Linked DNA regions of Homo sapiens: region 1 is linked to region 2. The links come from fine-mapping of genetic effects on gene expression. A gene starts in region 2. The other region holds a variant in brackets. All regions are shown on one strand. Distances are between the middles of the regions.

What was found. PIP is the estimated chance that this variant, and not a neighbour inherited with it, causes the effect.
Region 1: its variant is fine-mapped to the expression of PSME4 in lung (GTEx, PIP 0.97).

Annotation. Positions count from the first base shown.
Region 1 is chr2:54,490,507-54,495,885 of GRCh38, reverse strand. All of the region lies in intron 1 of SPTBN1 (spectrin beta, non-erythrocytic 1), which reads right to left. It also overlaps the pseudogene C9orf85P1. Among named protein-coding and RNA genes, the nearest start is that of SPTBN1, 37 kb to the right of the region's middle. The variant AGT/T (reference allele first, on the strand shown) is at 3,040.
Region 2 is chr2:53,968,446-53,973,824 of GRCh38, reverse strand. PSME4 (proteasome activator subunit 4) reads left to right here and starts at 2,832. Exons shown (of 47, transcript NM_014614.3): 1 at 2,832-3,282. The coding sequence starts at 3,041. It also overlaps a transcript of ACYP2 not described here. RefSeq lists enhancers at 2,314-2,363, 2,659-2,953, 3,220-3,984 and silencers at 2,564-2,953, 2,828-2,989, 2,964-3,163.

The sequences.
Region 1 (5,379 bases), 520 kb before region 2:
TTTGATTTACTTGCTTTTTAATAAAGTAATTATGGTTTTCCCAGAATTTTTAAACAAAATTATACAACCAAAAAAATCCCCAAAAGAGGTTATTGGTTAAATAAATCACCATACATATAATATGTAGACTCTCATGCATCAAATAAAAACAATGATATTTTATGTCTACATAAAACATGGAATAATGCTCAGAGGAAATAAAGGTAAAAACACATGCAAATTATGATTCTAATTTTGTTTTAAAACATACATATATCTGAAACAATATACACCAAAATGTTAAAAGTATTTAGCACTGGGTGGTGGGATTAAAGGCAATTTAAATTTTCTTATTTTTCTTAAGTGTATTTTCCTTAATTTCTACAGAGAACACTTTATTTTTGAAATGAAACATCTTAAGTATTTGTACAGGTAGGATTCCAATGTAGTCTGCAGTTTCCTGGACAACGCAGAACTGTCTAGCAAGACAGAGCCCTCTTGGACAACAAGGTTCTCCTAATATGATTTAAACAGATTTGAGGGGGTGGCATCACATAAGGGTTCCTTGAGCTCTGAACCTGGGATTCCTGCCTCTTCATCTTCCCAGAGTGGGCAAAGCCGAGTTGATTTTGTCTGTCCCCTGCTTACCACCCGTCAGTGATGTACAACGCTTTCAAAACAATGCTCCAAATGTATGGTCCCTGCTGTCCTCCAGACCAACCTCTGCCACACACCTGCAACCTCCTATGATTCTCAGAATTGCCTCTGAGATGCCCTCTCTACACTCGCCTCAAGCTCACCTCCTCCAGGGGGTCTTCATTGTACCTTCTGTGCCCACACCTGTCACAGCATTCCACACACTGCACTACACCTGTCAGCCCACTTCTGCCCCTGTTCTTGACTGTGAGCAGGCTGGATGAGATATAAAGAACGGTGCAATTGGCAGACAAGGGAAGACAGAACTTTTTTCAGGACATTTTTTTTTTTTTAAAAAAAAACAGCTTTATTCAGGTATAACTGATATACAATGTGCATATTACACAATTTGGCAAGTTTTGACCTATGTATATACCTGTGAAACCATCATTGCCATCAACAAAATGAGCATACCCATCACTCCTAAGTTTCCCATGCCTCTTTGGAGTCCATGCCTCCTGGCCCATCCTCACTTACCCTTATTCTCCACCTCCAGACGACCATGGATCTGCTTTCTGTCGCTAGAGATTAGTTTGTAATTTCTATATAAATGGAATCATACAGTTAGAACTCTTTTTTTGTCTGGCTGCTTACCCAGTATAATTATTCTCAGATTCACTGATGTTGCTACATATACCAATAGTTTGTTTTTACTGCTGAATAGTATACCATTAAATGGCTACAACAGTTTGTTTATCCATTCACCCATGATGGACATGTAGGTTGTTTCCAGTTTGGGGTTACTACAAATAAAGCTGCTATAAACATTTGTGTATTTTTTTTGTACGAATATGTGTTTTCATTTCATTCCTAGGTATCTCTAGTTAAATACCTCGGAATTGAATGTCTGGGTAATATCACAGGTCATACTGTAATTTGTTAAAAAAACTGCAAGTTGTTTAAAACAATGAGCAGACAAGGACTCAAATGCACCAGAGGAATATCCTCTTAAAAGATAAGTCCTTTTTAAAAGGGATGATGAGTCACTTTATAATGTGAATAATCATCCTCTGTAATTTTTAAAATATTCACATTTTAAATTTCTCAAGTAAGTCATGTCTGTATTAATTACAATTATGTAAAAACTTGCACTCTGTCTGCTGTCCAATTCCTACACCGTACCTCATTCTTTTCAGGATTTGGGTAGCACCATTAATTGCATTTTTCTCTGTACTCTCTACAGTGGCATTTATGAGAAAGAGCATGACACTGTGATTATCTTCAAGTGTTGAAGGAGGACCCTTTCTTTGCATGTGTTCCAAGTAAAGAGAGTAACCCACTCACGTGACTTTGGGGAAGTTATATTAACTTCTGTTGTCTTTGATAGACACCCTATCATCACTCACATTTGAATGTAAGGTATCAGGGGTCTCCAGTTTAAGAGGCTATTAAGTAATACAACATGGGCTACACAAAGAAAAGCAATTTCACCTGCAAATATCTATGTTGGCACTTAGTCTTGGACCCTCTTCTTCAATTTTAACCTAAATTCAGAACACATAAAAATAAGGCCAGGTGTGGTGGCTCATGCCTGTAATCCCAACACTTTGGGAGGCCAAGGCAGGTGGATAACTTGAGGCAAGGAGTTCAAGACTAGCCGGGCCAACATGTCAAAACCTTGTCTCTACTAAAAATACAAAAATTAGCCAGGCGTGGTGATACACACCTGTAGTCCCAGTTACTCTGCTGAGGCACAAGAATCACTTGAATCTGGGAGGGGGAGGTTGCAGTGAGCTGAGATCACGCCACTGCACTCCAGTCTGCGTGACAAGAGTTAGACTGTCTCCCCCAACCCCCCAAAAAAGAAAACACAAAACACACAATTTATAGAATATATATGTAAGAGCAACCCAGAACACAGAAGGAAATTATAAGAAAACTAGAAACATCAAGATATGCTCCTTAGGCCGGGTGCGGTGGTTCATGCCTGTAATTCCAACACTTTGGGAGGCTGAGGTGGGAGGATTACTGAAGCCCAGGAGTTTGAGACCAGCCTGGGCAACATGGCGAAACCCCATCTCTACAAAACATGCAAAAATCAGCCAGGCATGGTGGTGTGTGCCTGTGGTCCCAGATACGCAGCAGGCTGAGGTGGGAGAATCCCTTGAACCCAGGAAGCGGAGGTTGCAGTGAGCTCTGATTGTGCCACTGCACTTCAGTCTGGGCAATAGAGTGAGACCCTGTCTCAAAAAAAAAAAAAAAAAAAAAAGATATGTTATTTAGTTCTATCTAAACTTTAAAAAAGGATTAGATTTTCTGATGGACACTGTATTCAATATTCTGCAGACATATTAAACTGCACAACAATTTTCTAAACACAGTTTTTAAAGGATCTGAGTGTAATAGCATAACAGAGCTAAACAG[AGT/T]CTGATAGCTTTTATTATTTCTATTAACTTTTCTGCTCTAGTTTATACAAGCCAATAAATCTCATTCTATTCCACATGAAAGGAAATCCACTCAGTAGTCAATTACATTTCTACATCAGGCTGGGGGTATCTTTGCTTGAGACATAAGAGACGTGTCCATGTGTCCTCAGCATGAAGACTGCTGTAACTTACATAAATGTTCCAGAAGCAAACCTTTTCAGTAAAAACCAAACCCCATATAAAATGTTACTAGCTTGCCTAAGTTCGAAGGCATCTACCACAGCAGTCAGTCAGTTGGTGCAAAGGGCAGTAGGTCCACCACCTGCAGTGAGGTCACAGGAATGACACAGCCTTTGAAAAAGGTGTTAAGTAAAACTCCTCAGACCCAGCAAATCCACTTTCAGGGATCTAGGGGAAAAGGCAACTTCAGATAAAAATATGAATGCAGTGATGCTCATCACTGTGCTTTTCTATAGTAGCAAAAAAAAAAAAAAACAAAAAAACAACTGCAGACAAACTAAATGTCCAGTAATAGGGCACACCTACTTTAGAAATAGGGTACACCTACTTTATACAGCCATAAAAAGTGTTTTCAAAACAATTTTTTAGCATGAATACAACCCATAAAAACAAAGGGTATAAAAATGTGAGTGTATATGTGAGCGCAAACCGTAAACTGGACCAGAATTATAGCATGGCTTAGCTCTAGGATTACAGGAATATTCTTTAATGTATTACTCTCATATTCAGAAGTTATTTTTTAAATTATGGTATATCCTAAAAATAATTATCTTGAGGTCTCTTGTTAAAAGCTCTTAAAATACCACATTATTTCTCTGGAAACATCTAAAGAACAAAATTTGTTTACCAGCCATGCTGCCTATTTCTTTAAGGGCCTATTTGCAAAGCCTAATAGAAAAATTTGGATTTAAAAAAGAGAGAAACAAACTGGGTGCAGTGGCTCATGACTGTAATCCCAGCACTTTGGGAGGCAAGGTGGAGGACTGCCTGAGCCTAGAAGTTCAAGACCAGCCTGGGCAACACGGCGAGACCTCGTCTCTACCAAAAAATAAAAAGAAAAGAAAAGTTAGCTAGGTATGGCAGCATGCATCTGTGGTCCCAGCCACACCAAGAGGCTGAGGCAGAAGGACTGCTTGAGCCAAGGAGGTTGAGACTGCAGTGAAGTGTGTTTGCACCACTGCACTCCAGCCTGGGTGACAGCCTTGTCTCCAAAAAAAAAAGAGAGAGAAATTAGAAGTAAATTACTTAAAAATGATTACTTGAACCACAGAATTTAAATGTTTATGATTACAAAGCATTTAAGATATGATATTCAAAAGTTTACTTTAAATGGCAGCTCTTCAGGAACATATTTACTCCAAGAAGTTATTCTTACATAAGATGACCAAGAATTTCTGATCAGTCCTTCATCAAGAATGTCAACCACAACAGCTCAAATCCTATTATCTAGTTGGTAATGAAATTTTTTTCTACCTAAGTGTAGAATGGTCGAAAGAGAAAATGTGACCTTCAATCCTTGAGTATGGTTTTGGAGACTTTTCACAATCTATTACTATGTGAAAAAGAAGGTAAATCCTCACAGTGACAGGCTATGATGCCAGGGGAATCTTCCTGTCGGTTAAGTTTATTAACAGTTTTTCTGGACCCCAAAATTTACAAAGTCTAACCTTGACCTTAGTAAGGTCCCTTAGAGTTTCTTAACCAAATTATTGCCACAACTTCCTGACTGGTTTCCCTGCTCTGAATTTTGCCCAACTGAAATCCATCCTCTTCCATGCCAGAGCTCAAACGAGCTTTGAAGAACACACAAGCTTGACTAAAATGTTTCACCACCCTCCTCACTTGTCTTTTGGGTAAAACCTCCTCTCAAGGCATGCAAGAGTTTTTGCCTGGCCTCAGCTCCCTTCACTCTTCAACACAGCCCTCTTTATTCCAGCCACAGCAGAAGAGGTCCTCAAAACACACTGTTTTCTCTCTCCCTGGCTTTCTGCCTGCTGTTCCCCTGCGTGGGACTCTCCCACACCTTAATCTTTCCAACTAACACTAATCATTTTTCAAGAGTCACCTCCAGCCTCATCCTTCTTCACTAAGCTGTCCCCATCCCTCCCATCTGGCATCTACCTGAATAAGATGCCTATTGACCAGACTGAAGCCCAAGCCCATCTTTGCTACTAAGGTGGTTATCCAACTTAATACAATAAAGCATGTCCGCTACTAAGGGGAAATTCAGGAACAGCAGATTAATAAGATAGCCAATTACTTCAAAGTGCTTATTCCCAATCAGAAATTTCTGGAGAATCACATCACCATTTTCAGT
Region 2 (5,379 bases):
TTTATTCCAAGTACCTCCTCATTGTCTCGCGCGTCCGTGGGAAGAGACCACCAAACAGGCTTTGTGTGAGCAACATGGCTGTTTATTTCACCTGGGTGCAGGCAGGCTGAGTCTGAAAAAGGAGTCAGCAAAGGGTGTTGGGATTACCATTAGTTCTTATAGGTTTTGGAATAGGTGGTGGAGTTAAGTGCAATGTTTTGGGGGCAGGGGGTGGATCTCACAAAGTACATTCTCAAGGGTGGGGAGAAATACAAAGAACCTTCTTAAGGGTTGGGGAGATTATAAAGAAACTTCCTAAGGGTGGGGGAGATTACAAAGTACATTCATCTGTTAGGGTGGGGCAGAAACAAATCACAATGGTGAAATGTTATCAGTTAAGGCTATTTTCACTTTTTTTGTGGATCTTCAGTTGCTTCAGGCCATCTGGATGTATACATGCAGGTCACTGGGGATATGATGGCTTAGCTTGGGCTCAGAGGCCTGACACTCATCTCTTTCCGGCTCTCCCTACCCCATTATTTTTTAAAAGGTTGTCCATATTTGCTGCCTCTATTTATTCACTTCCCATTTGTCCTTTGTCACCATAATCAGATTTCTATTCTACACTCCAACGACACTGTTCTTATGCGCTTTATCAATAAACTATCCAATAAACCCTTTCAGGTTTCACTTCATTTGACCTGTTAGCTACCTAAGGTAGGATTGTTCGCTTCTCCATGAGACACCCAGTTTCCTAGAACTCCTCCTCTCTCTGCTTTTTGTGAATATTCTTTGTGGCCTACCTTCCTTTTCTCTGTCTGTCCTTAAATGTGGGGCTCCTCAGAGATTTGTGAAGGGCCCTATTTTTTCATACTGTATATTTCCTTCCCTCCTGTCGTCCATCTACACGCTAATCTGCATCTCAGTTTAGATCACCCTCCTGATACATATGTCAACATACCCATCCCATAGGCATTCTGCCTCCCAAGCTGTTTCTGCTGTGTTCTTTATCTCAGTGAAGGACTTCACCTATCTACCCAGCGTCGTCTTGTCTCTTTCCTTTTTAATTTTTCACTTTCAGTCAACTACTAAGCCCAAGCCATTCTGCTGAAGTAGCTCTCAATTTCAACTGACATCCAGGCCATGATTATGTCACACCTTAAAGGGTCCTCCAGTTCCCAATCTTGTCAGTTCCAACCCATTTTCCAGACGAAGCCAGAGTGACTCTTTTTTTTTTTTGAGACGGAGTCTCGCTCTGCCACCCAGGCTGGAGTGCTGTGGCACGATCTCGGCTCACTGCAAGCTCCATCTCCCGGATTCACGCCATTCTCCTGCCTCAGCCTCCCGAGTAGCTGGGACTACAGGCGCCCGCCACCATGCCCGGCTAATTTTTTTGTATTTTTAGTAGAGACGGGGTTTCACCATGTTAGCCAGGATGGTCTCCATCTCCTGACCCCGTGATCCACCCGCCTCGGCCTCCCAAAGTGCTGGGATTACAGGCGTGAGCCACCACGCGCCTGGCCCTTTTATTTTTTGAGACGGAGTTTCGCTCTTGTTGCCCAGGCTGGAGTGCCCTGGCGCGATCTTGGCTCACTGCAACCTCCGCCTTCCGGTTTCAAGCGATTCTCCTGCCTCAGCCTCCCGAGTAGCTGGGATTACAGGCGTCCGCCACCACGCCCGGCTAACTTTTTTGTATTTTTAGTAGAGACGGGGTTTCACCATGTTGGCCAGACTGGTCTCGAACTCCTGACCTCGTGATCCGCCCGCCTCGGCCTCCCAAAGTGCTGGGATTACAGGCGTGAGCCACTGCGCCCGGCCGCCAGAGTAATTCTTAAAAAATGTAAATTATATCATCCCACTGCTATGCTTAAAATCTTTTGGAAGTTTGTCTCTAGGATAAAGCTCTGAATTCCTTAGGATTGCCTTCTCAGTCTCATTTCTCCGTCCCCTCTCTTACGCTATTTTGAACTTTGAATTTTTAGAATACATGCTTGCAGCGTCAAAGCTGTTCTCTCAGCTGAAATACGTGTCCTCCTCCCTCCTTTTTCTAACCAACTTTGCACTCAACCTTCATAGCTTAAATTAAGTATCACTTCTAGGAAAATGACACCCTCTCAAACCCCCTAGTTTCAACTTCTTTGTAGAGTTCCTAAGGATTCTTGTACTTATCTAGCAATTAAGAGCATTATCTTGTAATTCACGTCTTTATCTCTGCTAGACTAAGTCCTTGGGAGGGCGGAAACCAGGTTAAACTTTCTATCTCAATAGCCTAAACTGAGCGCCTTACACACAAAACAGCTGTTCAAATAGCATTTGTTCAGCGAGTAACTATTTTCTTCTTTGGAATGATGGCGGCCAGAATACCAGAAAGATGGGGACTTAAAGGGGACAGAAAAATTAAATCTATAAGGAACAAGCGGGATGGAGTAAATAAATCTATAAGGAGCAAGTGGGTACGTAGGCTTTTCCATAAACCCCTCTAACCCAGAAGCCGGGGCTGCTCGGCTAGGGGGACCAGGCCGACCTGGCTGCCGCCTGTCGTGGCGACTGGGACTCCAGTGGGCTGCCGCTTGGAGTGCGCGACCCCCGGCGAAGCAGGACAATAGCTTGGAATTCGGCCTCGTGTTTCCGGTGAGGCAGCCTCGCGCTGGGCCGGTGAGGCCTGGGGTGGGGGCTCCGAGCCGGGCCCACGGCGAAGAAGGCGCAGCCCGTTGGGCTCCAGCTGCCGCCACCACCGCCTCCCCCGACGCCGTCGCTCCGCCCCGCCCCGCCCCGGAAGTGACTTGAGGCCGGTCCGGAACCTCTGGGCCCGGCGGCTGCAGCGTCACCAGCAGAGCCGGTGCGGGGCGGGCAGAGCGGCCGCTGCCGCCGCCAACGAACTGAGAGCCGCGTGGGGCCCAGCAGCACGCCGGCCAGGGAAGGGGGCCTAGCGATCGGTCCGAGGGCGACGGGCCGCCAGCGGCCGCAGGGCGACGAAGACGCGGAGGAGGCGGAGCCCGGAGAGGGGTGGGGGCCGGGGAGGGTTCGGGTGGGAGGGGGTGGGGGGGGTGTCCCTGGGCTCATGGAGCCGGCCGAGCGGGCGGGAGTCGGAGAGCCCCCGGAGCCGGGCGGGCGTCCCGAGCCGGGCCCGCGGGGCTTCGTCCCGCAGAAGGAGATCGTCTACAACAAGCTGCTGCCCTACGCGGAGCGGCTAGACGCCGAGTCCGACTTGCAGCTGGCCCAGATCAAATGCAACCTGGGCCGGGCCGTGCAGCTCCAAGAGCTGTGGCCCGGGGGCCTCTTCTGGACCAGGAAACTCTCCACGTAAGTGTGCCCGGGCCTGCGGGCCGGGCCGGGGGGAAAGGCTCAGTGAGAGGTGTCGGGGATGGTTGCTCTTTGTCCAGAGGGCTGGACCCTTAGCTCTGTCCTCGCTGGAGCTGTCCCCGAGCGGTGATCCCAGGGTCGTGACAGAGCCTGTGAAGTACTCAAGCCGTCCTCCCTGCCACTTTCCTACGGGACTTCCCGGGTCTTTACCATCCCTCTACGTCCTCCGCATCTGCTTCTCCCGAAGTGTTCGGGTTGTTGTCTTCCCACCTGGGGGGCCCTGGGTAGCCCAAGGGCCCCGGCCCCGAGGGAGAGAGGTGAGCCTTTCTCAAGGGTCCTCCGTGGACTTTTGCGCATGGGAGAGGCGGGGCAAAGAGAATTTGTCTTTGGGGGAGTTCCTTGACTTGTCTCCTTGCTTCCTCCGGTTCTTCCTTCCCCTACGATCCCCGCCTCTTCGCATCTCCGTTGGCGTCTAGTAACTTTCTGAATGGAGAGAAGACCATAGGGAAACTTAAGGGTTTTGCTTTTTGGGGGCCCTCTCAGACCTGGCGGAGTTGATCGAAAAGGGTCGTTTAAAGTCAGACCTCATTCTTGAGCTTAACGTCTTATGTGGACAGTGTTGTTTTGGATTGTGTGTTGCTCCTGTTGTGACATTTCTTTTGGAGAGACATTTAAGATACTGAGGAAAGTAGGGAAGAGCACTGTCAGGATGTCCAGGGCGATATTAGTATCAGGCTTGTGTTAATTTTTTGAGTTACTCAGATTAAGAGATTACCTAAATCAGTTTCAGGAGTTCTGTTTGTAAACTAGCTTCAAACTATAGTGTCACTGAAATTAGGAAAAAAAAAAAAAAAACGAGTGAAAATACAGTGGGGGAAAAAAGGTTACATTTACTTGCTGGATGGGCATCTTTACTGTGTCCGAAGAGCTTTTTAAGAAAGAATTTTGCTGTATCTTGTTTGGTTAACTGTACATAAAATCTAGTAACATGGTATGTTCACGCATGTGGGTATGGACGGGTGAACACACAAGACATAACTCACTCATTCAGTGTTTACCCAAAGCTGCTGATTGAACTGAGTGATGACTCAGGGTTTTGTAATAGTTTTGTGTATATTCACTGGATGATTCTCATCTGCCAATTATTAAGGGGCCTCTGACAAATTTCTCATTTCCACTTGAGGGGTGGGTGGGACCTTTTTAATTAAAAAGAAGCAAAACTAAAACATGTAATTTGCCCTCTTCAGAGAGTGATCATAAAATGTCAAGGTTAACAGCTCTCCCCTTGACTAGAGTATAATGAAGTTTTTCGTGTTAGGATCCTTAGGAGAATGGAGGTGAGGGGCGGCAGAAGCAGGAATGCAACAGGGAGAACCACGTTTAGTCAAAAAAGAATATTTTATAAATAGTTAAAATCCAAATGCTTTTTCAAGTGAGACTCCTAGGTTTTTGTGTTGCTCAGGCACAGTAAAAATAGTCACTTTGTTACAGTAATTCCCCATTTTAATCACTTGGATTAGACTTGCCAGAGAATACCTACCATTTTTGGGGACGCAAACAGCTTTTTTTAGTGTACATTATATAAATATGCCATGGTGTGAAGGCATATCTGCTTTGGATTTATAAACCTAGAATCTACCAAGGCATAGTTAAGCATTGTTTTCTAAAGTATTTATTGTTAACAAGTTTGGTAAATTAGCACTCCGAGTTTTGTTATTGTTTTGGCTTATTAGATAAAAGTTTGTACCTAGAAAGGGCTAAAAATAACAATGGAGCTAATGTTTGGTGTTTAGGGCTGGATTGCAGATAGCTGATGGCTTAATACCCATGAACCCATAACCATTTATAGCTAAATAACCAGCAAGAAATGCTACTGGGTAGAATTTTATTTTGGAATAGTGGTTAGATGCTGGAAACTGATTCTTGATATTGCACTATGAGACATTTTGAATGCGGTGGGACATGTTGTGATCTTGGGTGTGTTTTTTTCCTAAGTCATGTTAAGGTGACCTGTTCATAGTTGTGCTTGTTGTTTTTTAAGCCTTCTGTGTTGCATAAGTGAACATCTGAATAATGCCAAAACGTGTGACGAAAGCT